Linked DNA regions of Homo sapiens. The protein of the gene in region 3 interacts with the protein of the main gene of each other region in a pairwise test. Each region holds a gene or a part of one and is shown on either strand. Other genes may lie near its edges.

Region 1 (8,654 bases), on a different chromosome or scaffold from region 3:
AAAATGAGACCACCATATAACTTTTCTTTATTAAGTTCCCATAAAAAAAAAGATACCATAAGGGAGAATCAATAAATAAAGCCAAACAAACGAGGATTAACACTTTGAAAACATCAAATAATTAAAAAAAATTGAGAATTGTTTATAGCGTTCAAAGAGATAGAAGGAAGGTATAAAAACCACAGAGTAACAGTACATTCAAAGAACAAAACTAAGTGGATGGAAAAAGACCCAAATGAAAATGAAAAATTATAACCACTGAAATAAGAGACCTATCACACACAAGAATTAATTACTGAGACATCTTCTCAAATACTGTTGTATGATTGCTCAAATATTTAAGTCTAATTCTCTCCAATGAGAACTGAAAGCTGACTGAGGGTAGAAAGCATACACGGTAAGCCCTCTGTATCTGTGTGTTTTGCATCCATGGATTTGATCAACTGTGGATTGAAAATATACGAGAAAAAACAAAAAAGGATGGTTGAATCTGTACTAAACATACACAGATTCTTACTCTTGACATTATTCTCCAAACAATATAGTACAGCAACTATTTACATAACATTTACATTGCATTAGGTGTTATAAGTAATCTAGAGATAATTTATAGTATATGAGATTGGGTGTAGGTTATACGCAAATACCACACCATTTTATAGGAGACTTGAGCATCCATGGATTTTACTATCCACAGGGGTCTGAGAACCAATTCACTCATGGATACTGAAGGACAACTGCCTAGTATTTTTTTTTTCCATTGCAGGGCATCTAGCATAATGTTAAGCATATAAACAATCCGATTTTATAATAGAGTTAAGATGTCTACAAAACTAATGAATGCAAACTCTAGATTCATAACAGAAAAAGGAGTAAGTTTTAAAAAAATATACACAAGGCTGGCCGGGCGTGGTGGCTCATGCCTGTAATTCCAGCACTCTGGGAGGCCAAGGCAGGCGGATCACATGAGGTTGGCAGTTCAAGACCAGCCTGACCAACATGGTGAAACCCTGTCTCTACTAAAAATACAAAATTAGCCGGGTGTGGTGGCACATGCCTGTAATCCCAGCTACTTGGGAGGCTGAGGCAGGAGAATCACTTGAACCCGGGAGGTGGAGGTTGCGGTGAGCTGAGATCACGCCGTTGCTCTCCAGCCTGGGCAATAAAAGGGAAACTCCGTCTCAAAAAAAAAAAAAAAAAAAATACACACAAGGCCAGGGACAGTGGCTCATGCCCGTAATCCCAGAACTTTGGGAGGCCGAGGCGGCCTGATCACTTGAGGCCAGGAGTTTGAGACCAGCCTGGCCACATCTATACTAAAAATACACACACACACAAAAGTTAGCTGGGCATCGTGGCATGCGCCTGTAATCCCAGCTACTCGGGAGGATGAGGCATGAGAATCACCTGAGCCTAGGAGGTAGAGGTTGCAGTGAACCGAGATCATGCCACTACACTCCAGCCTGGGTGACAGAGTGAGACAGAGTGAGATCCAATCAATTGATCAATCAATATATTTGAGACTGATGTTGAGATATCTTCTCACAAATGTACAGGTCACCTAAATACGAAGATCTCTGGTGTAAGAAAGCACAAAAATGCTATGCTAAGTAACAATTCTGAAGAGTTTTACAAAGTCATCTACTATCTCACTGGAGTCATTAAACAAATTTCAGAGATACAGAGGTATATGGTTATTTACACTTTTTATAATGTAGACTCAAAGAAGCTAACATAACTTTCAAACATCTCACAACTGTATTTTTACCATTTAAGTAAAACTCTACGAAACACAACAATAACAACAAGAAAAAGCCAATCACATATTTAGATTTCATAACTGATGCCAAGAAATTTCAGTCCTGGGCTGTAACAGCACCATTAATCCTCACCGAAAGAAAAAAAGTCTTTATTCAATTAGTTTTCCCCATAACTGTTCTTGAGTATCAATCTGTGAGGTGCTTTACTTACTTGTTTCTCTAAGACAGATGTCCTCTCCATTTCGGCATGCTTTATCATATTTCGCATGTATTCCAATTGTTTTTCTAATAGATTGCATTTATTTTCTGCAGCTAACAACTGAGATGTCAGTTCTAAAAAGAATACATAAGAAAAGCAGAAATCAACTCACCCATAAAATAGTTTTAACAAGCTGTTAACAGGAATTGGATCTATTGTGTATACAATAAAAACACCTTCCACAGACCTGGACGCCTTTTCAGATTACCTAAATCATTCTTTCTACGTGCTAGTCAAACTGGCCTTGCATTCAGTAAATAAATGCCATGTATGACAACAGCATTTGCTCCTCAAAATGCACCAGAATACAATGCAGTTTTGTAGTACTTGAAGATACCGCTACAAAACACTAATGTACTATTTCTTTTAGAATACTTAATACTGCACAACACTTATTTTGATAGAATTTTAATTTTCTTCATCAACAAACCTTGATTGTGCTTTGATTCCTCATTCTTTGAATTCTCCCTTTCTTGTATCTGTTCATCCAGTACTTTCTTATATTCAATTGTTTCTCTAGACAAGGTTTTCACACTTTCTTCTGCCTGAATCCTCTCAAGTTCCAAGCGTCGAATCTTATCTTGAAGATTCTTAAGAGCAGAAAATATGGCTGCCAAATACAAACACAAACGTGGATGCTGTAACAGCATATGCGGAGAAAGTATATTAAGAAAGAATAAACTCATCTAAATAAAAAATAAAATTGATGGATGAGTCCAGTGGAGGATCACTCTTTGGGAACAATAAAATGTTAATTATCTCATATTTGTTTTTTAAAAAATCAATTTAAAGACATTGAGTGGGCCGGGTGCGGTGGCTCACACCTGTAATCCCAGCACTTTGGGAGGCTGAGGTGGGTGGATCACCTGAGGTTAGGAGTTCGAGACCAGCCTAACACAGTGAAACCCTGTCACTACTAAAAATAAAAAAAATTAGGCAGGCATAGTGGCGGGCGCCTGTAATCCCAGCTACTCGGGAGGCTGAGGCAGGAGAATCGCTTGAACCCGGGTGGGGTGGGGAGTGTGGAGGGGTGGAGGTTGCAGTGAGCTGAGATCGCACCATTGCACTCCAGCCTGGGCGACAGTGAGATTCTGTCTCACAAAAAATAATAATAAATTAAAAAAAAGACATTGAGTGTTTGAAATGTGCTCAAGTAAAAACCCCATTACTATGGTAAAAAAATTTCAAAGACTTTTATAAAGTGGTAAAAAATTTAGCCAATCATACAAAGTTCACATAACAGTCCTAAAGTACATTACTGTCTTATTAATATATTACTTATTAATTAAAATTAGTAAATGTATTAGTAACTATTACTTATTAATACATTTTATTAATAGGAGCACATGTAGAAACCAACTATAGAGTTACAGTCAAGCACACAAAAATAATACTTTTAAAATCCGCATTTTAAGTACTTTCTAAAGTCCGCTTCAAGTTTGATTATAAAATTATGTTGACTGCAGTAAATGTAGAAGACTGAGAAAAAACACACTGAAAAATAACCAATAATCCTATTACCCAAAGATAATGACTGTCATTTGGTTATTTAAATTTTTTCCTATATGTGTAAAATAAATTGAGACAAAACAAATATGTAGGTTTTTTCACTTTAGCATTATTAAATAGTGAGAATTCCCTCAGGCAATCAGTCTTAAAAGATTTTCTAATGATCAATAATTAAAAACTAAAAAGTTACTGGGTCAAAGAAGAATCATAGCCATTCTAATGAGAAAAATATGCTACTCCTAGTTATTTTCCATTTCCATCAAAGTATAAATCTTTTCATATATGTTATTGGCTAATTTTCTCCCTTTCATGAATTTCCTTTGCCCATTTTTCTATGGGAAAAAGTTTTCTTCATTTTATTATCTGCCTTTAATTCTAGTTTTGATGTACAGATGTTTTGATTTTTCACAGAGGTATACCTAATTCTTTCCCATCACGTTTTTTTTTTTTTTAATTATACTTTAAGCTCTAGGGTACATGTGCTCAACGTGCAGGTTTGTTACATATGTATACATGTGCCATGTTGCTGTGCTGCACCCATTAACTCATCATTTACATTAGGTATATCTTCTAATGCTATCCCTCCCCCCTCCCCCCAACCCACGACAGGCCCCGGTGTGTGATGTTCCCCACCCTGTGTCCAAGTGTTCTCATTGTTCAATTCCCACCTATGAGTGAGAACATGTGGTGTCTGGTTTTCTGTCCTTGCAATAGTTTGTTCAGAATGATGGTTTCCAGCTTCATCCATGTCCCTACAAAGGACATGAACTCAATCTTTTTTACAGCTGCATAGTATTCCATGGTGTATATGTGCCACATTTTCTTAATCCAGTCTTGATGGACATTTAGGCTGGTTCCAAGTCTTTGCTATTGTGAACCGTGCCGCAATAAACATACATGTGTATGTGTCTTTATAGCAGCATGATTTATAATCCTTTGGGTATATGCCCAGTAATGGGATGGCTGGGTCAAATGGTATTTCTAGTTCTAGATACTTGAGGAATCGCCACAGTCTTCCACAATGGTTGAACTAGTTTACGATCCCACCAACAGTGTAAAAGTATTCCTATTTCTCCACATCCTCTCAAGCATCTGTTGTTTCCTGACTTTTTAATGATCACTTTAATGGCTCAGGATTGTCTTGGTAATGTGGGCTGTTTTTTTTGGTGCTGTATGAACTTTAAAGTAGTTTTTTCCAATTCTGTGACGAAAGTCAGTGGTAGCTTGATGGGGATGGCATTGAATCTATAAATTACCTTGGGCAGTATGGCTATTTCCACGATATTGATTCTTCCTATCCATGAGTATGGAATGTTCTTCCATTTGTTTGTATCCTCTTTTATTTCATTGAGCAGTGGTTTGTAGTTCTCCTTGAAGGGGTCCTTCACATCCCTTGTAAGTTGGATTCCTAGGGATTTTATTGTCTTTGAAGCAATTGTGAATGAGAGTTCACTCATGATTTGGCTGTGTGTCTGTTATTGGTGTATAAGAATGCTTGTGATTTTTGCACATTGATTTTGTATCCTGAGACTTTGCTGAAGTTGCTTATCAACTTGAGGAGATTTTGGGCTGAGACGATAGGGTTTTCTAAATATACAACCATGTAATCTGCAAACAGGGACAATTTGACTTCCTCTTTTCCTAACTGAATACCCTTTATTTCTTTCTCCTGCCTGATTGCCCTGGCCAGAAGTTCCAACACTATGTTCAATAGGAATGGTGAGAGACGGCATCCCTGTCTTGTGCCAGTTTTCAAAGGGAATGCTTCCAGTTCTTGCTCATTCAGTATGATATTGGCTGTGGGTTTGTCACAAATCACTCATATTGTTTTGAGATACGTCCCATCAATACCTAGTTTATTGAGAGTTTTTAGCATGAAGGGCTGCTGAATTTTGTTGAAGGCCTTTTCTGCATCTACTGAGATAATCATGTGGTTTCTGTCTTTGGTTCTGTTTATATGATGAATTACGTTTACTGATTTGTGTACGTTGAACCAGCCTTGCATCCCAGAGATGAAGCCAACTTGATCTTGGTGGATAAGCTTTTTGATGTGCTGCTGGATTCGGTTTGCCAGTATTTTATTGAGGATTTTTGCATCAATGATCATCAGGGATATCGGTGTAAAATTCTCTTTTTCTGTTGTGTCTCTGCCAGGCTTTGGTATCAGGATGATGCTGGCTTCATAAAATGAGTTTGGGAGGATTACCTCTTTTTCCATTGATTGGAATTGTTTCAGAAGGAATGGTACCAGCTCCTCTTTGTGCCTCTGGTAGAATTTGGCTGTGAATCCGTCTGGTCCTGGACTTTTTTTGGTTGGCAGGCTATTAATTATTGCCTCAATTTCAGAGCCTGCTATTGGTCTATTCAGGGATTCAACTTCTTCCTGGTTTTGTCTTGGGAGGGTGTATGTGTCCAGTAATTTACCCATTTCTTCTAGATTTTCTAGTTTATTTGCGTAGAGATGTTTATAGTATTCGCTGATGGTAGTCTGTATTTCTGTGGGATTGGTAGTGATATCTCCTTTATCATTTTTTATTGCATCTATTTGATTCTTCTCGCTTTACTTCTTTATTAGTCTTGCTAGTGGTCTATCAATTTTGATCTTTTCAAAAAACCAGCTCCTGGATTCACTGATTTTTTGAAGGGTTTTTTGTGTCTCTATCTCCTTCAGTTCTGCTCTGATCTTAGTTATTTCTTGCCTTCTGCTAGCTTTTGAATGTGTTTGCTCTTGCTTTTCTAGTTCTTTTAATTGTGATGTTAGGGTGTCAATTTTAGATCTTTCCTGCTTTCTCTTGTGGGCATTTAGTGCTATAAATTTCCCTCTACACACTGCTTTGAATGTGTCCCAAAGAATCTGGTATGTTGTGTCTTTGTTCTCGTTGGTTTCAAAGAACATCTTTATTTCTGCCTTCATTTCATTATTCACCCAGTAGTCATTCAGGAGCAGGTTGTTCACTTTCCATGTAGTTGAGTGGTTTTGAGTGAGTTTCTTAATCCTGAGTTCTAGTTTGATTGCACTGTGGTCTGAGAGACAGTCTGTTATAATTTGTTCTTTTACATTTGCTGAGGAGTGCTTTACTTCCAACTATGTGGTCAGTTTTGGAATAAGTGTGATGTGGTGCTGAGAAGAATGTATATTCTATTGATTTGGGGTGGAGAGTTCTGTAGATGTCTATTAGGTTCGCTCGGTGCAGAACCAAGTTCAATTCCTGGATATCCTTGTTAACTTTCTGTCTCGCTGATCTGTCTAATGTTGACAGTGGGGTGTTAAAGTCTCCCATTATTATTGTGTGGGAGTCTGAGTCTCTTTGCAGGTCTCTATGGACTTGCTTTATGAATCTGGGTGCTCCTGTATTGGGCGCATATATATTTAGGTTAGCTCTTCTTGTTGAATTGATCCCTTTACCATTATGTAATGGCCTTCTTTGTCTCTTTTGATCTAGTCCGTTTTATCAGAGACTAGGATTGCAACCCCTGCCTTTTTTTGTTTTCCATTTGCTTGGTAGATCTTCCTCCATCCTTTTATTTTGAGCCTATGTGTGCCCCAGCATGTGAGGTGGGTCTACTGAATACAGCACACTGATGGGTCTTGACTCTTGGTATCCAATTTGCCAGTCTGTGTCTTTTAATTGGAGCATTTAGCCTGTTTACATTTAAGGTTAATATTGTTATGTGTGAATTTGATCCTATCATTATGATGTTAGCTGGTTATTTTGCTCGTTAGTTGATGCAGTTTCTTCCTAGTCTCGATGGTCTTTACAATTTGGCATGTTTTTGCAGTGGCTGGTACCGGTTGTTCCTTTCCATGTTTAGTTGTTCCTTCAGGAGATCTTGTAAGGCAGGCCTGGTGGTAACAAAATCTCTCAGCATTTGCTTGTCTGTAAAGGATTTTATTTCTCCTTCACTTACAAAGCTTAGTTTGGCTGGATATGAAATTCTGGGTTGAAAATTCTTTTCTTTAAGAATGTTGAATATTGGCCCCCACTCTCTTCTGGCTTGTAGTTTCTGCCGAGAGATCTGCTGTTAGTCTGATGGGCTTCCCTTTGCAGGTAACCTGACCTTTCTCTCTGGCTGCCCTTAATATTTTTTCCTTCATTTTAACTTTGGTGAATCTGACAATTATGTGTCTTGGAGTTGCTCTCCTTGAGGAGTATCTTTGTGGCATTATCTGTATTTCCTGAATTTGAATGTTGGCCTGCCTTCCTAGATTGGGGAAGTTGTCCTGGATAATATCCTGAAGAGTGTTTTCCAACTTGGTTCCATTCTCCCCGTCACTTTCAGGTACACCAATCAGAGGCAGACTTGGTCTTTTCTCATAGTCCCATATTTCTTGGAGGCTTTGTTCATTTCTTTTTACTCTTTTTTCTCTAAACTTCTCTTCTCGCTTCATTTCATTCATTTGATCTTCAATCACAGATACCCTTTCTTCCACTTGATTGAATCGGCTACTGAGTCTTGTGCATGCGTCATGTAGTTCTCATGGCATGGTTTTCAGCTCCATCAGGTCATTTAAGGTCTTCTCTACGCTGTTTATTCTAGTTAGCCATTCGTCTAATCTTTTTTCAAGGTTTTTAGCTTCTTTGCAATGGGTTCAAATATCTTCCTTTAGCTCAGAGAAGTTTGTTATCACCGATCGTTTGAAGCCTTCTTCTCTCAACTCGTCAAAGTCATTCTCCATCAAGCTTTGTTCTGTTGCTGGCAAGGAGCTGTGTTCCTTTGGAGGAGAAGAGGTGCTCTGATTTTTGGAATTTTCAGCTTTTCTGCTTTGGTTTCTCCACATCTTTGTCGTTTTATCTACCTTTGGTCTGATGATGGTGACATGCAGATGGGGTTTTGGTGTGGATGTCCTTTTTGTTAGTTTTCCTTCTAACAGTCAGGACCCTCAGCTGCAGGTCTGTTGGAGATTGCTGGAGGTCCATTCCAGACCGTTTGCCTGGGTATCACCAACGGAAGCTGCAGAAAAGCAAATATTGCAGAATGGCAAACGTTGCTGCCTGGTCCTTCCTCTGGAGCCTTAGTCTCAGAAGGGGACCCGGCTGTATGAGGTGTCAGTCGGCCCCTACTGGGAGGTATCTCCCAGTTAGGCTACTTGGGGGTCAGGGATCCACTTGAAGAGGCAGTCTGTC
Region 2 (4,897 bases), on a different chromosome or scaffold from region 3:
ACGCACTCTTCAAACCCTTGAGATTGAACTTCAGTCCCTCTTAGCAACGGTAAGCGAAAAGTTACAAAACAGATTTGCTTTAGAAATTGAGAAAAAAATAATCGAAGAGAATTTTCTTCCAACATAATTACATATTTTAGTTTTTAACCATTAATTACAGTGCTTGACATAAGACATATTTGCATTTTGCACATGACAATCCTCTTTGCCTACAAAGTATAGCTGGATGCCAATAATTATGAAATATTAGAAATTAGCAAATACAGTCAAGATACTGGAAAAAGAAAATCGTTTTGACTTTGAATCTTCTATCATAAGTCAAAATATCAAAAACCACTCATATGTGGAGGCTAAAAAAGTTGATCTCAGAAGTAGAGAGTGGGATAAGTGCTTACTAGAGCCTGGGAAGGGGATGGGGGGATAGGAAGAGGTTGGTTAAAGGATACAAAATTACAGAGAAATAGGGAGAATCAGTTCAAGTGTTCTATAGTACTGTAGAATGACTACAGTTAAGAATAATTTATTCTATAATTTCTAATAGTTCAAGGAGAGGATTTTGAATGTTCCCAACACACACAAAAAAGATAAATGTTTGGGACCATGGATATGCTAACTGCCCTGATTCTATCACTACACATTGTGTGTTTTGAAATATAATTATGGAACCCCATAAATATATACAATTCTTATGTGTCCATTTAAAAAAAAAGAAAAAAAATCCTACTGCTTAAAGAGAGCAAAAATACATTTGCACCACTCCTAGCTTCATCTAGCATTCCTTTTGGCCACTCAATTAAGAGCACTTACAAGTTCCTTTGTAAGTGGCATAGACAGAGGAAAAGTCGAGGCATGAAGGCTGACTATAAAACTAAACATGTGTAATGATAATCATAACTGCTTTCATTAAGGGTTTGCCCAGCACTTCCGCCCACATGTGAGTCCACAACAACCCCGGGGCATGGGCAGGGCAGACGTTATAACTCATGTCATTATTTCCAAAAGAGGACTCTGAGATTCGAAGAAGTTAAGCAATTCCCACAGTCCCACAGTTGGGTATGAAGGAATCCAGAAGTTCTCTCCAAATTTTCTAACTCCCAAGTCTATACTTTTCCCACTATGGCTAGTAAACCACCAGAGTTTATCCACAGATGAGGCTATGAATGTATATAAAATCAAGACTTTATATAAAAAATACTTGCAGGTGAAAGGATAAGACACTCTCATCTTCATTCCATGTAAAATTGCAGTGAGTGTTCCCTCTGAGTATATCTGTAAACCCATTCAGATTCACAAGCCAATGAATTGAACTACTGTATTTAAAGTCTAAGAAGGTAATTATTTTCTGTGGTTTATTCTACTCATGGAACGTTTATGCGGTTTACTGCAGGATGACTTTTTAATAGAAGAGCTACAATCCTCATAAGACAAGACTGTCACATGGCTAGAAATGAGTAGCAAAGTATAGGCGGACTTCTAGTTGTGGGTAAAGTAGCAAATTGTGCCACACTCTACAAGCACAGGCTATATTGGTGCAGGGGAGGGATCTTTCAGTCTGTGCCCTATGAAGAGACAATTTCATCTTTTTTAGCACACCTGGGCATCTGAGGGACATTCAGCACCAGCTGTGTCATTCTCAAATAGAAAAGTAGTAGGACATTTAATAAAGGCAACAATTAATATTGAAGAAGTGGAATCTTTTGGGTAAATATAATTATTTGCATGATGTAAGGATAATTCTCTTAATTATCTCTTAAATGCTTTGGCTTATTCTAAAACACCGTGACCTTTTCTATTAAACCATGTCTTACCAAACTACAGAAACACTCCCTGGAGTGCTCCTTGACAGAGACCGAGAGTAACTACTGTGCACAGCTGGCACAGATCCAGGCTCAGATCGGGGCCCTGGAGGAGCAGCTGCACCAGGTCAGAACCGAGACCGAGGGCCAGAAGCTCGAGTATGAGCAGCTCCTTGACATCAAGGTCCACCTGGAAAAAGAAATTGAGACCTACTGCCTCCTGATAGATGGAGAAGATGGGTCAGTATTGCCGCCATTGAGAAAACAATTCATTTTTAAGGTTACTAAAGATGATTTGAAATCAAGTACAAAATATCTATGATCTAGATCACGCATAGATAATACTCTTTTAGTGTTATTTCAGAATGCAGTGAATTCCCACCTTAAATCATTATTTTTCAGTTTCCTCAGTAAAACAGAATAATTAATATAAGCGCTCTATACTTTTACAGCTCCTGTTCTAAATCAAAAGGCTATGGAGGCCCAGGAAATCAAACAAAAGGTAAACAAAAGCTGTGTTAGGCATTCAGTGTTTATTTGTATGTGTTTCAAATGATGTTTTATTTCCTATTTATGAATTTGATAAATTCTAAACAGTTTATATGTGGCATTTTAGATTCATCTAAAACCACCATTGTCAAAACAGTTGTTGAAGAGATAGATCCTCGTGGCAAAGTTCTCTCATCCAGAGTTCACACTGTGGAAGAGAAATCCACCAAAGTCAACAACAAGAATGAACAGAGGGTGTCTTCCTGAACTCCAGCCTCTGAGACAGAATGGCCCCCAAATTAAAATACCAAAATGAAGCTAGTTTCCTAAATAAGGGTCCCCTTATTTTTCTGCTTTTCTTCCAATGAATTAAGACAAGTTATTTTTAGAATAGTACCATTTCTTTGGCTTTTTCTCTATGGTGGTGTTTCAATAAAAGTTCTTCCTGTTGCAAGTCATCTTCCCTGGTTCTGGCCAATCTTTGCATTTTAGATATACCCTCCCAAATGGAAGCTGAATTTTGTCTTTAATTTCTTCTGTTTAATTCAACAGTCTTCACAAGTTGGAAGTAAGTTTAATGTGAAAACTAGTTGGAGTCTTTTTGACTTCTCTGTAAAATTTTGTCTCCTTTGTCTCAGTACGAAAAGTACTTACTGAGAACACGCTATGTGCCAGATAACGAGGATAAAACAGTTAATAAGATCCAGTCCCTGAAGTCAATATGCTCATAGATGTAGAAATAAGAACCTGAAGAATCAGAAACAAACTTAAACATAAAGGAAAGGCTATAAGTAGTGATATTTGAAGGTAGAAGGGGAAAAAGAGAGCTGTGAGGACAAGGGTAAGAGGAGAATTCCAGCAGGCATCTAATTCATAATCTTGATCACTCCACCATAACGGTAGGAATTCACAAGTTCTCTCCTTCGTTTTTGCCATCCAAGACTGCAGAGCCATGTGGCTCTCAAGTCAAAGGTAACTTTTAGTGCAATAATTTCAGCACCTACCATTAATGAATCTATTTCAAGGCTGGGAGTGGGAGGAGGTTAAACTCAGCAGAAAACCCTCCAGAGGTTTATTTGTGGGTGAGAGATTTGGCTCCCCCTCACCAATCCCGTAACAGAAACAGCCTGTTTTTCTCTGGAACCAGTGTCCTATTACTGAACTCTGTAGAATTGGCTCAGCACAGTTGAAACACAGTCACTTTCAAGCTGTCTTTCCTCCTCTTTTTCCCACACGCATGTAATAATACCTAAGCGAATGTAAGGCAGATACCCTCTCACTTAACTTTTTAATTAACCAGTCCTCACATCATATACCCTCATATCAAAATTAGGAAAAGGAAACATCCTACCACGTAAGAGTTGAAAAGTTACATTCACGCAAAAACCTGTGCACAGATGTTTATAACAGCTTTATTCGTAATTGCCAAAACTTGGAAGCAACCAAGATGTCCTCTTGGTTGACGAATGGATAAATAACTGTGGTACCTCTAGACAACAAAATATTATTTAGTGCTAAAAAGCTATGAGCTATCAAGCCATGAAAAGACACAGAGGAACCTTAAATGTATATTACTAAGTGAAAGAAGCCAATCTGAAAAGGCTACATACTGTATGACCCCAACTATATGACATTCTGTACAAGGCGAAACTATGGAGATAGTAAAAAGATAATTGGCTGCCAGAAATTGGAGGTGAGGGATGCACAGGCAGAACACAGAGGATTTTTAAGGCTGTGAAAATACTCTGGATAATATCATAAGAACGGATACGTGTCATTATACATTTTCCAAACCCGTAGAATATACAACACTAAGAGTAAACGGTAATACTAAAAAGTCTTTAATTTTTTTTTTTTTTTTTTTTTTTGAGACAGTCTCGCTCTGTCGCCCAGGCTGGAGTGCAGTGGCGCCATCTTGGCTCACTGCAAGCTCCGCCTCCTGGGTTCAAGCCATTCTCCTGCCTCAGCCTCCCGAGTAGCTGGGACTACAGGCGCCTGCCATCACGCCCGTCTAATTTTTTTGTATTTTCAGTAGAGACGGGGTTTCACCGTGTTAGCCAGGATGGTCTCGATTTCCTGACCTCGTGATCCACCTGCCTCGGCCTCCCAAAGTGCTGGGATTACAGGCGTGAGCCACCGAATACTTAGCTCAGATTTCACAGTATTTGAAACGCCTGACCACCAACTCACCATAACTCAGGAAATAAATTCTTTCTGCTAAAACCAGGCCAATATTTAAAACCTTTAAATATGACTTCCAGGAAAGAGTCAATAATAGTTGATAACCAGCACTTACTAGGTGCTAGACTCTGTTCTAAGCATCATTTATTCCTCACAACAACCCTATGAGGTAGGTACTGTTATCGTCCTCGTTTTACAGATAAGGAAACGGAGGCAGAGACTGGTTGAATAATTTGCCCAAGATCACACAGTAATAACATGAAGTGCTGAAATACGTAAACCACACAGAATAGCTCAGAGTCTGGTGCTTCACCACGACATAATACCATGCTAGTGAGAACTTTATGACTCCACCTTCCCTATAACAAGAGAAGGGATAAAGAAACTACGTGCATGCTCACTCCAGTCGGTCTGAGATTAGCAGAGACATC
Region 3 (8,654 bases):
AAATTACAAATTTTACATCTTCCTAAAGAGATGTGAATACCTGCTTGCGATGGCCACAAGTATTTAATTAGTTAATCTGGTACTACTTACTCTTCTATTATTATATTTAAAAGCTTATTTATACACCTTAAAATTGTTCTACCTTTATTATTATATAGTAATTAAGTTGAAAACAATATTTTAACTGAAAGGATCTAGGCTTAATAGAAACTGTAAATCCTGAACATGTCAACAGACAACTTTTTATTTACAGATGTTAAAATGAATCCTGAGAAATACACGTGCTAAATATTATTCTCTTGTGTTATTAGACTAATATAAAAACACAGTATTACATGATCCCGATTCCATTATTTTTCTTCAGACAGGGTCTCACTCTGTTGCCCAGGCTGGAGTACAGTGGTACAATCACGGCTCACTGCAGCCTCGACCCCCCCAGGTTCAGGTGATCCTACCACCTCAGCCTCCCAGGGAACTGGGGTTATAGGCGCGTGCCACCAGGCCTGGCTAACTTTTGTATTTTTTGTAGAGATGGGGTGTCACCATGTTGCCAAAGCTGATCTCAAACCCCTAGGCTCAAGCAATCCTCCCACTTCAACCTCCCGAAGTGCAAGGATTACAGGTATGAGCCACCGTGCCCAGCCCTCATCTAGTTCTAACAAATAAAATTTCTCTGCAGAACTTTAATACGGCAGGCCTTCCTAATTGGCAGTTACTTCTAAAATAAGGCTAGATTTAGGGAAATAATTGATGTAGGTACTAAGAGACAAAATTCTAAACAAAGGTGTATTTGTGTCCTATTGCTGCCGTAACAAATACCACAAACTTAACATTTAAACAACACAAATTCATTATTTTACACTTCTGTAGGTTCAGAAGTCTAAAATGGGTCTCAGCCAGCCAAAATCAATGTATATACAGAGCTGTGTTCCTTTCTGGAGGCTAAGGGAGGATCCATTTCCTTGCTTATTCAAGTTGCATGTGGAATCCAGTTTGCTGCAGTTAGAGCACTGAGATTTGTATGTCCTTTGTGACTGTCAGCTGAGGGCAATTCCCAGCTTCCAGAAGATATCTGATGGCTGGGCACGGTGGCTCATGCCTGTAATCCCAGCACTTTGGGAGGCCGAGGCAGGTGGATCACGAGGTCGAGAGATCAAGACTATCCTGGCCAACACAGTGCAACCCCGTCTCTACTAAAAATACAAAAATTAGCTGGGCGTGGTGGCACACACCTGTAGTCTCAGCTACTTGGGAGACTGAGGCAGGAGAATCACTTGAACCCGGGAGGTGGAGGCTGCAGTGAGCCAAGATGGCACCACTGCACTCCAGCCTGGCAACAGAGCAAAACTCCGCCTCAAAAAAAAAAAAGAAAAAAGATTATCTGAATTCCATGTCTCATGGCCCTCTTTCTCCATCTTCAAAAGCCAGCAAGAGGGGGTTGAGTCTCTGACCTACTCTTCTGAATCCTTCTGGTTTAAAAAGTTTGTGTGATTACCAGGACCACCCACATAATCCTGGATAACCTCCCTATTTTAAGGTCAGCTGATTAACAACTTTAATTCCCTTTTGCCATGTGCTATGGTTTGAACGTTTGTTTCCTCCAAAAGTCATGTTGAAACTTAATTCCCAATATGACAGTATTGATAAGTGGGGCCTTTAAGAAGTGACTGGGTCTGGGCACAGTGGCCCACATCTGTAATGACAACACTTTGGGAGGCCAAGGCAGGAGGAATGCTTGAAGCTAAGAGTTCAAGATCATTCTGTGCAATGAAGCCAGGTCTGATCTCTACAAAAATTTTTTTTAAAAATTAGCTGGCAAGGTGGTGTATACCTGTAGACCCTACTCAAAGGGATGAGGCAGGAAGACTACTTGAGGCTAGGAGTTTGGAGGCTGCAGTAAGCAATGACTGGGCCACTGCACTCCAGCCTAGGTGACACAAGGAGACCCCATCTCTAACACAAAAGCTTTTTAAAAAAGAGGTGACTGGGTTATGAGGGATGCCCTCATGAAAGCATTAATTCATCCAAGGGTTCATGGATTAATGGATTATCATGGGAACTGGACTGGTGGCTTTATAAAAGGGAGACAGACCTCAGCTAGCACACTCAGCCCCCAGCCATGTGATACCCTGCATCACCTCTGGACTCTGCAGGAGACCAGGAAGAAGGGCCTCATCAGAGGCAGCCCCTCAAATTTGTTTTTTGTTTTTTTCTTTTGAAACAGAGTCTTGCTCTGTTGCCCAGGCTGGAGTGCAGTGCTGCAATCTTGGCTCACTGCAACCTCCACCTCCCAGATTCAAGCGTTTCTCCTGCCTCAGCCTCCCAAGTAGCTGAGATTACAGGCACGTGCCAAAATGCCCACCTATTTTTTGTATTTTTAGTAGAGACGGGGTTGCACCACGTTGCCCAGGCTGGTCTTAAACTCCTGACCTCAGGTGATCTGCCCAGCTCGAACTCCCAAAGTGATGGGATTATAGACGTGAGCCACTGTGCCTGGCCCTGGCTTTTCCTTTTTTAATCTTCATATATTCTGAATCACATATTTCAAATTAAAAAACAAACCTTTACACACTTCTCCTGAATATCATTTCTCTGGGAAGCAAATTTGAGTTGTGGTTTTTTACCATCCATTCCAGATTCTTCATGTTTCACTTTGCTAAGATGATGATCCGAAATCCAGTCCATGAAGACAGTTAAAAGTTCATAAACTTGCCCATTAAGTGGTACCTATATGTCAAAAATTAAATCATTTATTTCAGTTCACAACTTCATAAAACTTCAAAGACAAACCTTAAATTTGTTAAGTAATAAGAATAATTTGACTAAAGTAATTCACTAAAATGTGTTAAGGACAGAGCTTCTCCAAACAAACAAAAGAATTCCAAATCAAACCTCCCCAACCTGCCTGGCGCAGTGGCTCAAGCCTGTAATCCCACCACTTTGGGAGGCTGAGGTGGGTGGATCACCTGAAGTTCCCTAGGAGTTCGAGACCAGCCTGTCCAACATGGCAAAACCTGTCTTTACTAAAAATAAAATTAGCTGGGCATGGTGGTGCATGCCTGTAATCCCAGCTACTCGGAAGGCTGAGGGAGGAGAATCACCTGAACCAGGAGGTGGAGGCTGCAGTGAGCCGAGATCGCACCACTGCACACCAATCTGGGCAAAAGAGCAAGACTCCATCTCAAAAAAAAAAAAAAAAAAAAAAACACCAAAAACCTCCCCAACTAATATTAAAAACATGTTAAATGACAACTGAGAGAAGGCAAGAAAAGTCATAATCAGGAAGTTGGAATAACTGTACCTTATTACTAAAAGAAAACTTTTCATAAAAATTCTTTATCCAAGTTTGATAAGATGGAAAAAAAGTAAAATTAGCCTTAACTTAAGAGCATGAATCACCACAATTAAAAGACTCTAAAAAAAATTAATGGTTTCCAGAGCTAAAGAATTTCCACTATGAAACTTATCTTTCTCTTCTCACAAAAATTGTTACTTTGTCTTTCCAGTATATCATTCAATACACATATGAACATTTTTTTCCTAGAAATCTTGTCCTCTGACAGCCTACCAAAATGAAAAGTAAAATAACAAAGTAATTTATAAATTTAATTAGACTAAGTATTATTACAAAACACATTTCTAATTTAATTCAATTTTTTTTAATAAGATACCACTACACATATCCACCTTAAGGAGGGAACTATGTTAAATTTATTTTTTTAAAAATCTGCAGGCCAGATGTGGTGGCTCATGCCTATAATCCCAGCACTTTGGGAGGCAGAGGCAGGTGGATCACCAGAGGTCAGGAGATTGAAACCAGCCTAGCCAACATGGTGAAACGCTGTCTCTACTAAAAATATAAAAATTAGCCAGGCGTGGTGGTGGGCGCCTGTAATCCCATCTCTTCGGGAGGCTTGAACCCAGAAGGCAAAGGTTGCACCACTGCACTCCAGCCTGGGTGACAGAGTGAGACCCCATCTCAAAAAAAAAAAAATTAAAAATATTAATAAATTAAAAAATAAAAAAACAAAAAAATTCAAAGACAGAGAAATATAAAAGCAAATTAATAAATAGGCAACATTAAGCCGATGGCAATCCACACAATCAGAATGACTAAAGACAAAATGATAAATAGTAGCATTACCACATTATTCTGAAGAGCAATTTTTCACTTTCTCAATTTTTTTCAAATAGAAACTAACTCCCTTTAGATGAAAACTTCGATTATCTTCAGTCCCTGAATATAAAGTCTGTACCTTTTCAATTTACTCCAATTTTCTCAATTTATAAAGAACTAGAAAATTTATCAAAATATCAAAATGATCAAAGCCCATAATAAGATACTACTACACACCCACTGGAAGGGTCAAAATGAAGAAAACTGAAAACACCAAATGTTGACAAGGTTGTGGAGCAACCAAAACTTTGATACACTGTTAATGGGAGTGTATCATTACACTCCCATTTGTACACAAAACAGTACAACCAATTTGGAAAACTGTCAGTTTCTTAAAAACATACATCTACCTTTATCGACCTTATGACCCAGAAATTGTAGTCCTGGTATATATCCAAAAGAAATGAAAACATACATCCATAAAAACTCTGTACACCAATATTCGTAGCAGCTTTATTTATTGCAGACAAAAACTAGAAAAAGCCCAGGTGTCTATCAACAGAAGAATGAAGGAACAAACTCTGATACAGTCATACAATGAAATACTATTGAGCAATAGTAAGGAACAAACTACTGATACACTCATAATTATGCTGAGAAAAGCCTTACACAAACAAGTACACACAATACAATTCCACTGACCAAATGTCTCAAACAGGCAAAACTAATTTCTGCAAAACTTCTGGCAGAAAAGAATGACCAGGAAAGGGTATTAGAGAACTTTCTAGGATAGTGGAAAGTTCTATATTCTAGGATAGTGGAAGTATTCTGTATTTGGTTATAGACAACATGAAATATTTATCAAAATTAATCAAACTTTACACTAAAGGATTTCTGCATTATGTTACCATATGTAATTTATATCTCAAATTTTAAAAATTCTTAGGGAAAAAAAGACATATGGAAATCCATTCAGGGATGGGTTGTAGTCTTGACTGAAATATAATAGCAAATGCTTGTGGAGTGTCAAAACATACTAAGCAATAAAGCCATTAATGATGTGTCAATGATACGTACCTGAAACACTGCTGAAATATAATAGTTTTGTTTTCACAAATGAAAGTATATTTTAAATATTCTTGAGATATTTCCCTATTAAAAAATTATTATGGTGAATCCCTTCCATAGCAAACATTCCAAAAAGAATGTTTGCTAAATCAAAGAGAAAAGATTAAAGCACAAGAGAAATCTTCCTGGCTTTCCATTGGAGAAATTTTCTTTTTTTTTTTTTTTTTTTTTTTTGAGACGGAGTCTCACTCTGTCGCCCAGGCTGGAGTGCAGTGGTGCAATCTCGGCTCACTGCAACCTCCGCCTCCCAGGTTCCAGCAATTCTCCTGCCTCAGCCTCTCGAGTAGCTGGGACTACAGGCGTGTGCCACCATGCCTGGCTAATTTTCTGTATTTTTAGTAGAAACGGGGTTTCACCATGTTGGCCAGGATGGTCTCGATCTCCTGACATCGTGATCCGCCCATCTCAGCCTCCCAAAGTGCTGGGATTACAGGTGTGAGCCACCGTACCCAGCCGAGAAATTTTCAATCATATCAAATCATAATTCAAACTTACCTTGTAAGTTTTTGAAACTGGTGCTTTTTCTTGTTTTAAACTTTTCATTTCATGAACAGCATGGGAACTTCCTTTCAATCTCTGTATTGTCATAAACTCGTACTTCCTCTGCAACAGTATATATGCGTGAATTAAAGAACAATTGTATCTAAATGAGTAAACTCAAAGGTAATCATCTAAAAACATACTTCTGTCTGTAGAGAAGAACAGGCAACTTACCTGTAAATTATCTAAACGAGCTTGAACTCTTTTAGCCTGAATGTCTATCTTCCTGTTTTCTTCACTTGCTTCATTTAACTAAAGGGTAGAAAAAGTTAGATATTTCAATATACACCTTCAACTGGTTTCATACTAAGGGTTTCCCAATCTACTATCTAATCTGGTTGATATTACTAACCAATGTAACAAAACAGAGACAGCATTCATGATTAACTTAGATCACAACTGAAGTTGTCGTTTTTCCCTAAAATATTAATGGTTTGTAAGATCATTTACTTCATTTTATGAAAAATGTACAAGACTCCAGATGTCTTAAAAGCATATACATATATTTTAGTGAAAATGTTTTTATTAATAAGTACACTGTTATCTGAACTATAACACATATAAAGAAAAGTATAAAATCCTAAGTATGCAGTACAATGAGCTATAACTGGGATTGCATTACTGGGACTATGTGTATATGTGTCTGTGTATATACTGATATGTATATATATATGGAAGAACTGACTTCCTATATATGGAAAGGAAGAATATTGAGTCTTCCTATCCATGAACATATCTTCAATTTATTTAGGTTTTATTTTCTTTTAATAATGTTTTGTAGTTTTCAAGTAGAGATGTCTTGCACATCTCTCTTTAGATTTATTCCTGGGTATCCAATTATTTTTTTATTATATTACTTATGGTATCTTACAATAAAATTTGTGATATATATACACCATGAATAGAATACTATGTGGCCATAGTAAAGAATGAAATCATGTCTTCTGCAGCAACATGGATGGAGCTGGAGGTCATTAATCCTAAGTGAAATAACTTAGAAACAGAAAATTAAATACTGTATGTTCTCATTTATAAGTCAAAGATAAACAATGGGTACACACATATGGACATAAAGATGGAAATAACAGATACTAGGGACTACAAAAGGGAAGAGGGGAGAGGGGTAGGGGTTGAAAATTAACCTACTGGGTACAATGTTCACTATTTGAGTGAAGAGTACATTTTAGAAGCCCAGACCTCACTGTTACACAATATATCCATGTAACAAAGCTGCACATGTACCCTCTGAATCTAAAATAATTTTCTTAAAAAATGAAAAGTGGCTTTTTGAAAAAATAAAAAAACCAACAAACCATGAGCTAGACTAAGAAAAAAGAAGAGGCTGAGTGCAGTAGCTCACACCTGTAATCCCAGCACTTTGGGAGGGTGAGGCAGGAGGATCACTTGAGCCCAGTTCAAGACCAGCCTCAGCAACACAATAAGACCTCATCTCTACAACAAAATTAAAAAATTAACTAGAGGTGGTGGTGCATGCCTGCAGTCCCAGCTACTAAGGAGGCTGAAGCAGAAGCGTGGTTTAAGCCCTGGAGGTTAAGGCTACATGTAGTAAGCCGTGGTCATGCCACTGCACTTCAACCTGGGAGACAGAGGGAGACAGTCAAAAAAAAAAAAAAAGAGAGAGAGAAAGAAAGAAAAGGGAGAGAAGAAATAGTAGCAAGGGAAGGAAGGGAAGGAAACAGAAAAGGAAGGCAGGGTTAGGGGGGTAGGGAAGGCAGAGGGAGGGGAAGAAGGGAAGAAGGAAAGAAAAAAGAAAAAAAAAAAGAAAAGAAAAAAGGAGAAAAGACCCAAACAGATAAAATCGGAAAAATCGGAAACAAAAAGGGAGACATTACAAGCAGTACCACAGAAATACAAGGATCACTAGAGACTACAGAGATCATTATGAAACAACTATATGCCAACAAACCGGAAAACCTAGAGGAAATGGATAAACTCCTAGGCACATATAACGTAAGACTGAACCAAGAAGAAACAGAAAACTAGAACAGACCAATCATAAGTAACAAGATTGAATTGTAGTAAAAAGTTTCCCAACAAAGAAAAGCCCGAACTAAATGGCTTCACTGCTGAACTGTACTTTTAAATTCACTCAATGACTTCACTGCTGAATTAAAACTTTTAAAGAACAAATACCAATTCTCAAACTATCCCAAAAAACTGAAGGGTAGAGAATTCTTCCAAACTCATTGTACAAAGCCAGCACTACCATGATACCAAAACCAAACCAAGACACAACAAGAAAACTCCAGGCCAATATTCCTGATGAACATAGATGCAAAAATCCTCAACAAAATATTAGCAAACCAAATTCAACAACACACCAAAAAGATAATATACCATAACCAAGTGAGATTTATCCCAGGGACACAGGAAGGCTCAAATATGCAAATAAAAAAATGTGATAATCACGTTTTAACAGAATGAAGAGTATAACAGAATGAAATATAATTACCTTACGATCATTTCAATAGACACAGAAAAAGTATTTGATAAAATTCAACAACATCTCTTCACAGTAAAAACTCTCAAAAAATTAGGTACAGAAGGAATGTACTTCAACACATTAAAAGCTATATATAACAAACACACAATTAACATCATACTGAACAGGGAAAAGCTGAAAATTTTTCCTCTAAGAACTAGAACAAGACAAGGATGCTCATTCTCACCACTCTTGTTGAACATGGTACTAGAAGTACTAGCCAGAGTAATTAAGCAAGAAAAAGAAATAAAAGACATCCAAATTGGAAATAACAGGCTGGGTGTGGTGACTCATGCCTGTAATCTCAGCAATATGGGAGGCCGAGGCAGGCGGATCACCTGAGGCCAGGAGTTCAAGACCACCCTG
Region 4 (8,654 bases), on a different chromosome or scaffold from region 3:
TTCCTGTTATCAGAGATACCTCAAGGGGTCAAAGGGAATTTTCTGATCAGGACTGGAACAATTGCGGTTCTCCACACCTGGTGCTTGGAGAACAGCTAGCCATCATTCAGCACATATTCATAGTGGGCTTATTCTGTGCCAGGCACAGTGTTAAGGCTGGAGATCTTAGGGAACCTCCAGTTTATTATCTAGTCTGAAATACAGAAAAGCAAAGAAGCAATGGCCATATTTTTTGAGTAGTGCAATGATGGGGGGTAAAGGGGACTGTGAGGGCACTGGGCAGCCTGGAGCAGGGGGGTCTTGTCTTGTGGAATAGATGTCTAAAGTGAAACTGAAGAACAAGGAAGAGTTCGCCAGACAAAGCCTGGAGAGAAGGAAGGTTCCAGACAGAGAGAACATGGATAAAAGCCCATGGGTGAGAGGAAGGGAGTAGTGAGGAACAAGAATTCAGAGAAGCATGCTAGCAGGTGGCTGAAGTTGCCGCAAATATGAGACATCCATTGCATAGATTTGAGATTCTCTGAGATTCATCTTGGGAAGATGTCAGAGTCTGTTGGGCAGCAAGAGCCTGCTTATTTTTAACTCTTCAACTGACCTGATTCTGTTATGATGTTCTCATTAAGCCAGCCCCCAGCAAGGGTTCTTCCACCAGGCTTCTGAGCTGAAGTAGGCAAGAGAGGTCATGGTGTAACAGCAGCTTAGGCCAGGGAGAGGACTAATGTCTTACTGCCTTCCCATGGGGCATGTAGGGGAGTACTCAGAACCTACTTGGATCGTTAAGCCCCACAGCAGGGATTGTAGAAGAGTATTTACGGTCCAAGGGATACTCCTTTCTTCTTCAGACTTCAGTTAGACCTACTAAATCAGGGCTAATTAATTGCTCAGTATCCTGAGGGCCCAAGAACACAGGCCTCCTGAACAAAGAGGCTGGCCTTCCTATAGAGGACATCCACATCTGCTTTCCAGCCACAGGGAATCTGACATATTAACAGATTAAATTTTCATGTCCTTCTTCCCAGTATGTCCATTTGAATATAAACATCCAAATATAAGAGTCTTGGTTGATTTTCCTTTTGGAAGAACTCAACATATTACTTTGTAGATAACTGAACAAACTAAGTGCTACAAGTTGAACCCAAATAGTCTGCACTGAGGGAGGCTCATTTCCAGTTCTCTCTGAATGTGCAGATTTGTATTCCCAAAGGACCATGAACCCAGACACCTTCCAGCCCACTGTTTCCAGCAGAGTGGTCAAGGCCAGAGGCTTCGGAGTCAGAGGTCCTGGTCCAATAGGGGCTTTTCCACTGGCATGCTGGGTAGCTTTGAGCAAGGGGCTTACCTCCTTTGAGCCTCAATCACCTCCCCTATAAAAAGGGAATTTAGTATTTACCTCATAAGGCAGTTATGAGGACAATGTGAAATGTAATGGTACTTGGTTCATAATAAGGAGCTCAGTAAATGGTAGCTATTAGTATTATTTTGTATCCAGATAGGCGAAGACCTATTGAATGTTGGACTGTTTAAGTAAGGATATATATATTTTTTTTCGAGACAGAGTCTTGCTCTGTCGCCCATGCTGGAGTGCAATGGCGCAATCTCAGCTCACTGCAACCTCTGCCTCCCGGGTTTAGTGATTCTCCTGCCTCAGCCTCCCAAGTAGCTGGGATTACCGGCACGTGCCACTACACCCAGCTAATTTTTTTTGTAGTTTTGGTAGAGACAGGGTTTCACCATGTTGACCAGGCTGGTCTCGAACTCCTGACCTTGTGATCAGCCCGCCTCAGCCTCCCAAAGTGCTGAGATTACAGCCATGAGCCACCGTGCCCGACCTAAGTAAGGATATTTTAACTGACGTTTCTCCAGTTCAGTAAATGCACTTCTAGGGTAGGAACTCACTGTGTCCCTAGTGCTGGAAAGGCTTCATCTGCCAGTGCATTTAATCCTAGAATTTTATTATTTTTAAAAATGGCAGTTGAGGTAAATTACATGCCCCATTCATTAAAAACACCAACTTACTTTCCAGAAAAGGTTACTAAGATTGCTTTATTTTATTTATTTATTTATTATTATTTTTTGAGACGGAGTCTCTCACTGTCGCCCAGGCTGGAGTGCAGTGGCACGATCTCGGCTCACTGCAAGCTCCGCCTCCCAGGTTCATGCCATTCTCCTGCCTCAGCCTCCCGAGTAGCTGGGACTACAGGCGCCCACCACCGCACCCGGCTAATTTTTTGTATTTTTAGTAGAGATGGGGTTTCACAGTGTTAGCCAGGATAGTCTCGATCTCCTGACCTTGTGATCCGCCCGCCTCGGCCTCCCAAAGTGCTGGGATTACAGGCATGAGCCACCATGCCCGGCTATTTTATTTTATTTTATTATTATTATTATTTTTGAGACGGAATTTGATCTGTCGCCCAGGCTGGAGTGCAGCAGTGCGATCTTGGCTTATTGCAACCTCTGCCTCCCGGGTTCAAGCGATTCTCTTGCCTCAGCCTCCCGAGTAGTTGGGATTACAGGTGCACACCACCATGCCCAGCTAATTTTTGTATTTTTAGTAGAGCTGGGGTTTCACCGTATTGGCCAGGCTGGTCTTGGACTCCTGACCTCAGGTGATCCACCTGCCTTGGCCTCCCAAAGTGCTAGGACTACAAGTGTGAGCCACCACACCTGGCCTAAGATTGCTTTTCAGTATACCCAGGTTGGTAATCTATACTCTTTTTCTGCCTCCTTCCTTTAGAAGTGCACTTGAAAAAAAGAACAAAGCAGATGAGAGTATTCAGTGGCTGGAGATACACAAAAAGAAGTCTCAAGCAATGTCCAAATCTGTGACCTTGCGTGCAAAAGCCATGGATCCCCATAAAAGCCTGGAGGAAGTGTTCAAAGCAAAGCTGAAAGAGAACCGGTCAGTGTCCTCTATGTGTCAAAAGGGGTGCTTGCCTTGGGATCCAACAGACCACTGGCCTATTGCCAGAAAATGCAAAATAGAGTTATCGAGGTAGGTAGGCTCCTGTAATCACAGCAGGGTCATGATTTTCCAAGTCAGATAGGAATTTACAGTGTACACGAGAGTTACACTGCTTTACTGGAAATGAAGGGTATTCTGGATTAGAAAAGATGAAATTCTTTCTAAAAGTCTTGCTAATTCCAGGAACAATGACCGTAAAAGAGCGAAAGAATATAAGAAAGAACTGGAGGAAATGAAGCAGCGAATACAAACAAGGCCCTATCTCTTTGAACAAGTTGCCAAGGTAAAACTAAACCATCATTTGTTTTCTTTCTGCCTTAGATAAAAGGACTCTGAAAAATTACAAAACAATTTTAATATGTGGGTATTAAAATTTTCCTTGAGGCCCAGAAATTCTAATTTCACTACTACCTTCTTTTCCCAAAATAAATAGTACAATAGAGAATGCTGCTTGTGTTGATTTCATCCAAGAGTGGACTCCAAAGGCATCGATAAAGGGATATTTCACTTCCTAGAGCTTTCACTGTAGTCTACCATTCAGATTTCATCAGACTGGGCATTAGACCCCAGAGACACAGGGACCATTTGGCTCTTTCTATGCTCTGGAGCCACTGTTCACAGTGCTGGAAAGGTATCTCTCCTCTGGCAGTGCTGCTGGCCCTGGGCCTCCCCAGCCTCTAGAGCTGTGGTATATTTATAGGTCTCCAAGCATTAGGATGCCCACAAACACCCTGCAAGGCTTTCTCTAGACTAAGTGGCTTTCAGGCTGGAAGCCTGAAATTTTTTTTTCTTCTTTTATTTTGTATGCATGTGTATGTGTGTGTGAGTGTGTGTTCCTTATGGAGCAGGGCTAACCCATAGGCAGTGTACCCGAAGTATCCTGGAAGAGTATCATTTTAAGATATTCTCTGTAGACTTTTAGGGATGTTGGACTCAGCTGAGATCTCCGTAAGGATGTAAGGATGCTCTGTTTCTACTGCATTAGGCTCTGTGGATCTCTTTCCTCTCCAGTTTCAGACAAGTTGGGGTTCCATAGTGACCTAGTTCCAATGGCAGGGCATTAGCTCCATCTTATAGTTAGTACATTGTCTAGGCATTTGCTGGCTCCACTTCCTCCTCCCTCCATAAATCTTTCTCCTCTCACACACATAAGCACACATGGTCTTGGATTTACTTAGCAACCTGCATTGTTCAAAATCTCATGCTTCTTTATGTTAATGTTAAGCAAGCTCACTCTTCAGATCTCAACAGATCTTTCACCTCTCTAGGAAAAATACAAAGTACTCTATGATTTTGTTCTTGAATACTTAAACAAAAAATAATATTCTGCTGGTCCACATGCAGACCATCTGTCCTTCCACTAAGAGTCTTGGTGTAGCTTATTTTCTATTTTATTTTAGTGTTCCTGATAATGGTTTGTTGCTTTAAAATCTTAGGTTTTTAGTCCATCCTTTTAAATCTGGGTCTCATTTGTCTCCCAAAAGTCTAAGTCATTGCTTTTCAAAATTGTGACTCCCAAATCAACAGTTTGGCATCTCTGGGGAGTGTTAGAAATACAGAATTACAGTCCTCATCTGACACCTACCAAATGTGAAATCTGCATTTTAACAAGACCTCAGGTGATTTATATACACATTAAGGCTGGAAAACAAGGGTTAAATAATTTTCTTGCAAATCTATGCCCCACAATAAGGGTGGTGGTGGTTGTGGCAGTATTGTAACAATACTGATTAAGTAATTTAGAATTGTCTGGTAATTCATAAGACAGCTACAACAGATTAATTTCCATCCCACAGGATCTAGCCAAGAAAGAAGCAGAACAGTGGTATCTAGACACCCTGAAGCAGGCTGGGCTGGAGGAAGACTTTGTGAGAAACAAGGGTCAAGGCACCCGGGCTGTTCAAGAGAAAGAGACCAAAATCAAGGATTTTCCCAGGTAACCTGAAATGTTGCTGTCATTCTGCAGCTCTCTAAATTGTCATACCCAGTAATACCACTGGGAGGAAACTTTAGAATAGCCACTGGTATTTTGAGATCATAATCCTGTATTTATGTAACATTAATAAGTAATCCAGAGATCTCCAAGTAACACATTTGAATTTAGAGAGTGATGCAGTTGTGAATAAAATCTGACAAATTATGTTTCGTTTTCTTCCATTTTGAAACAGATCATTTTCCAATTCCAGTTCCAATTTCATGAGCTGAAACTATTTCTACTTTATTTTTGAAGAAAAATCATGTATATTTTGACTTCTTATAAAACTATAAAACTGTTTTTCTAGCATTCCTTAAAGGTAGCTCATTAGTATCACCTTCTCCATAACCTTTTTTTTTTTATTTTTTGTATTTTTTTTTTGAGACAGAGTCTCACTCTGTTGCCCAGGCTGGAGTGCAGTGGCGCGATTTCTGGCTCACTGCAAGCTCCGCCTCCTGGGTTCACGCCATTCTCCTGCCTCAGCCTCCCGAGTAGCTGGGATTACAGGCTCCCGCCATCACGCCTGGCTAATTTTTGTGTATTTTTAGTAGAGACGGGGTTTCACCATGTTAGCCAGGATGGTCTCGATCTCCTCACCTCGTGATCTACCCTCCTCAGCCTCCCAAAGTGCTGGGATTACAGGCGTGAGTGACCGCGCCCGGCCCTCCATAACCCATTTTGATATTGAGTCAAAGGGAGAAAATAGTATCTTCTCTCCATTATTCTCAATTGTTTTGTATCTTAAATCCTAGCAGCCCCTACCCTAATTCCTATCTCAGTTTTATACCCCTAGAAATTTTCCTTTACATCCCATATAAAATAGTAATAATGTTGAGACTTTTTTTTTTGAGACGGAGTCTTGCTCCGTCGCCAGGTTGGAGTGCAGTGGCGCAGTCTTGGCTCACTGCAGTCTCTGCTCACTGCAGTCTCCGCTTCCCGGGTTCAAGCGATTCTCCTGCTTCAGCCTCCTGAGTAGGTGGGACTACAGGTGTCCACTACCACGCCCAGCTATTTTTTGTATTTTTAGTAGAGATGGGGTTTCACCATGTTGGCCAGGATGGTCTTGATCTCTTGACCTCGTGATTCACCTGCCATGGCCTCCCAAAGTGCTGGGAGAGACCGTTCTTAAACCTTACACAGTGCTTTAAGACTTTCTTTTTTCAGACTGGGCACGGTGGCTCACGCCTGTAATCCCAGCACTTTGAGAGGCTGACGTGGGTGGATCGCTTGAGCCCAGGAGTTTGAGACCAGCCTGGGCAACATGGCAAAACCCTGTCTCTACAAAAAGTTAAAAAAAAAAAAAAAATTAGCTGGGTGCAGTGGCACGTGCCTATAATCCCAGCTACTTGGGAAGCTAAGGTGGGAGGATTGCTTGAGGTGGGAGGGTTGCTTCAGCTGGGCTGTCCAGGCTGCAGTGAGCTGAGATCATGCCACTGCACTCCAGCCTGGGTGAGAGTGAGACCCTGTCTGAAAAAAAAATTTTTTTTGTTTTTCATGTTTTAATTTATTCTGCAGGTTCCAAGAAACTACAAAACTCAGCATCAGAGATCCAGAGCAGGGTTTAGAAGGATCTCTAGAACAGCCTGCAAGCCCCAGGAAAGTACTGGAGGAGCTGTCTCATCAGTCACCAGAAAATCTCGTATCACTTGCTTAATCACTACACTTAAAATTACTGCTTTTGAAAAATATTAAGCAGCTAACTTGGGTTTGAGTCAAGGCAGGGAAAACTTGGGTTTTGAGTCATGGCTACTGTTAGAGGATGGACAAATGAAGAGTAGCAGATTAACAGGCCAGGCGCAGTGGCTCACGCCTGTAATCCCAACACTTTGGGAGGCTGAGGCAGGCAGATCATCTGAGGTCAGGAGTTTGAGACCAGTCCAGCCAACACGGCAAAACTCCACCTCTACTAAAAATACAAAAATTAGCTGGGCGTGATGACACGTGCCTGTAATCCTAGCTACTTGGGAAGCTGAGGCAGGAGAATCACTTGAACCCAAGAGGCAGAGGTTGTAATGAGCTGAGATCACTCCACAGCACTCCAGCCTGGGCAGCAGAGCAAAACTCTGTCTGAGAAAAAAAAAGAGCAGCAGATAACAGAGAATAGTTCAAGGAAATCAAAGTGGGGAGGCTCAGGTGGAGGGATGGTAGCCTAAAGTTAAGGGTTCCTGCTTTGTGCCTCACACTTAGAGAATTAGGTACAGAAAAGAGAGCACAGGCCCAAATGCCTATAAGGGGCTAGTGCAGAAACATAAATGCGTCCATGGAGTGGGTGTAGACAGTAGGAGATAGTAGACACTGGAAAGTATCAAATCCTGCTGGAATATAGGCTCAGAGTTACTACATCAACTACATTTTCATCAAGCCAGAAATTTGTATGCTATCAACTAATTTAAAAATTACTTAGAAATATTGTATGGGCAAAATAAAATACATCTGCATATCAGATCTAGCCCATGGGGGATGAAAAACTTACAACTTCTAGTACAGGATTTCTTATCCTCAGTGCTATTAATATTTTGGGCCACCTAATTCTTTGTTGAGGGTTGGGGAAGGGAACTGTCCTGTACATTGTAGAATGTTTAGTAGCATCCCTGGCCACTACCTGCTAGATGCCAGTAGTACCCCTCTCCCCAGCTGTGACAACCAAAAATGTCTCCAGATATTGCATATCCCCAGGGGGCAAAAATGTGCCTGGCTGAGAACCACTGCTCTAATATAAATGGCTGCATGAAGCAAAAACTGGCATTCTAAGAATACAAGTAATTGCCATGAACACAGTCTATGTACTATGTGATTATGCATGTCATTAACAAATTAAGAATTTAAAACAATTCTCTCCCGTTATCTGTTTAGAATGTGCCTGTGTGTTTATGTGAGCATGAGGTTCATTTTAAGTAAACTTAAAATTTCCCAGACAACCAAGATTTTCTACTAGTAGGTGAACTTTGGAATAATTTTCTTCTCACCAATAATAATTGGATATTCTGGCTCGGTGCAGTGGTTCATGCTTGTAATCCCAGCACTTTGAGGGGCCAAGGCAGGAGGATCGCTTGAAGCCAGGCGTTCAAGACCAGCCTGGGCAACACAGACCTCATTTCTACCAAAAAAACCACAAAAAGTTAGCTGGACTGGTGGTACATGCCTATAGTCCTAGCTATTCAGGAGGCTGAGGTGGGAGGATGCCTTGAGCGTAGGAGTTCAAGGTTACATTGAGCTATGATTACACTACTGCACTCCAGCCTGGGTGACAGAGCAAGACCCCATCTCAAATCATAATGATGATGAGTGGATATTTTCTCAGTAGCTGTGGAGACAGGATGACTGATAGCAAGAGTGCCTGCTCTAACTAAAGCACCTTTCTCAAGCTTTTTTAAAAAAACTATCTTTGTGGAAAAATTCAGAAGTATCTGTTTTTATTGCCATTTTCTCAGATGCGTCTTTTTTGGTGGTGACAGAGTAACTATCACCTGGGCTTAAGAAATGAAGATGTTCTTGTTGTTTCCTAAGACTCCTCGGTTCAGTTTTACTGGTATGGAATCCTAAGGGTAAATCAATACACTATTTTAAAGGGAAAGATTAAATTCTTAATCTCTAAGAAAACAAATTTTGTATAAAACAAGAGCCAAAGAACTGACTGGGCTGTTTTGTTTATTTAAAGGAAAACCTGAATCTCTGCATCATGTAATTTTTAACTTTAAAAAAACAAAAACATGAAAT

Evidence for each region.
Region 1: the proteins of CCDC138 (region 3) and CEP57 interact in binary tests that used the Homo sapiens proteins (3 or more experiments, as listed by UniProt).
Region 2: the proteins of CCDC138 (region 3) and KRT27 interact in binary tests that used the Homo sapiens proteins (3 or more experiments, as listed by UniProt).
Region 4: the proteins of CCDC138 (region 3) and FAM161B interact in binary tests that used the Homo sapiens proteins (3 or more experiments, as listed by UniProt).

The regions. Positions count from the first base shown.
Region 1 is NC_000011.10:95,806,907-95,815,560, reverse strand, and holds part of CEP57 (centrosomal protein of 57 kDa), read right to left. Parts: intron 2,630-8,654; coding exon 2,450-2,629; intron 2,094-2,449; coding exon 1,972-2,093; intron 1-1,971. UniProt on the Homo sapiens protein: Centrosomal protein which may be required for microtubule attachment to centrosomes. May act by forming ring-like structures around microtubules. Mediates nuclear translocation and mitogenic activity of the internalized growth factor FGF2, but that of FGF1.
Region 2 is NC_000017.11:40,774,654-40,779,550, reverse strand, and holds the end of KRT27 (keratin, type I cytoskeletal 27), read left to right. Parts: coding exon 1-49; intron 50-1,818; coding exon 1,819-2,036; intron 2,037-2,248; coding exon 2,249-2,298; intron 2,299-2,412; coding exon 2,413-2,552; 3' UTR 2,553-2,743; downstream 2,744-4,897.
Region 3 is NC_000002.12:108,810,014-108,818,667, reverse strand, and holds part of CCDC138 (coiled-coil domain-containing protein 138), read right to left. Parts: intron 6,038-8,654; coding exon 5,960-6,037; intron 5,849-5,959; coding exon 5,741-5,848; intron 2,728-5,740; coding exon 2,563-2,727; intron 1-2,562.
Region 4 is NC_000014.9:73,932,193-73,940,846, reverse strand, and holds the end of FAM161B (protein FAM161B), read left to right. Parts: intron 1-2,734; coding exon 2,735-2,899; intron 2,900-3,145; coding exon 3,146-3,245; intron 3,246-4,758; coding exon 4,759-4,898; intron 4,899-6,452; coding exon 6,453-6,591; 3' UTR 6,592-8,368; coding exon of another isoform or gene 8,369-8,414; 3' UTR 8,415-8,571; downstream 8,572-8,654.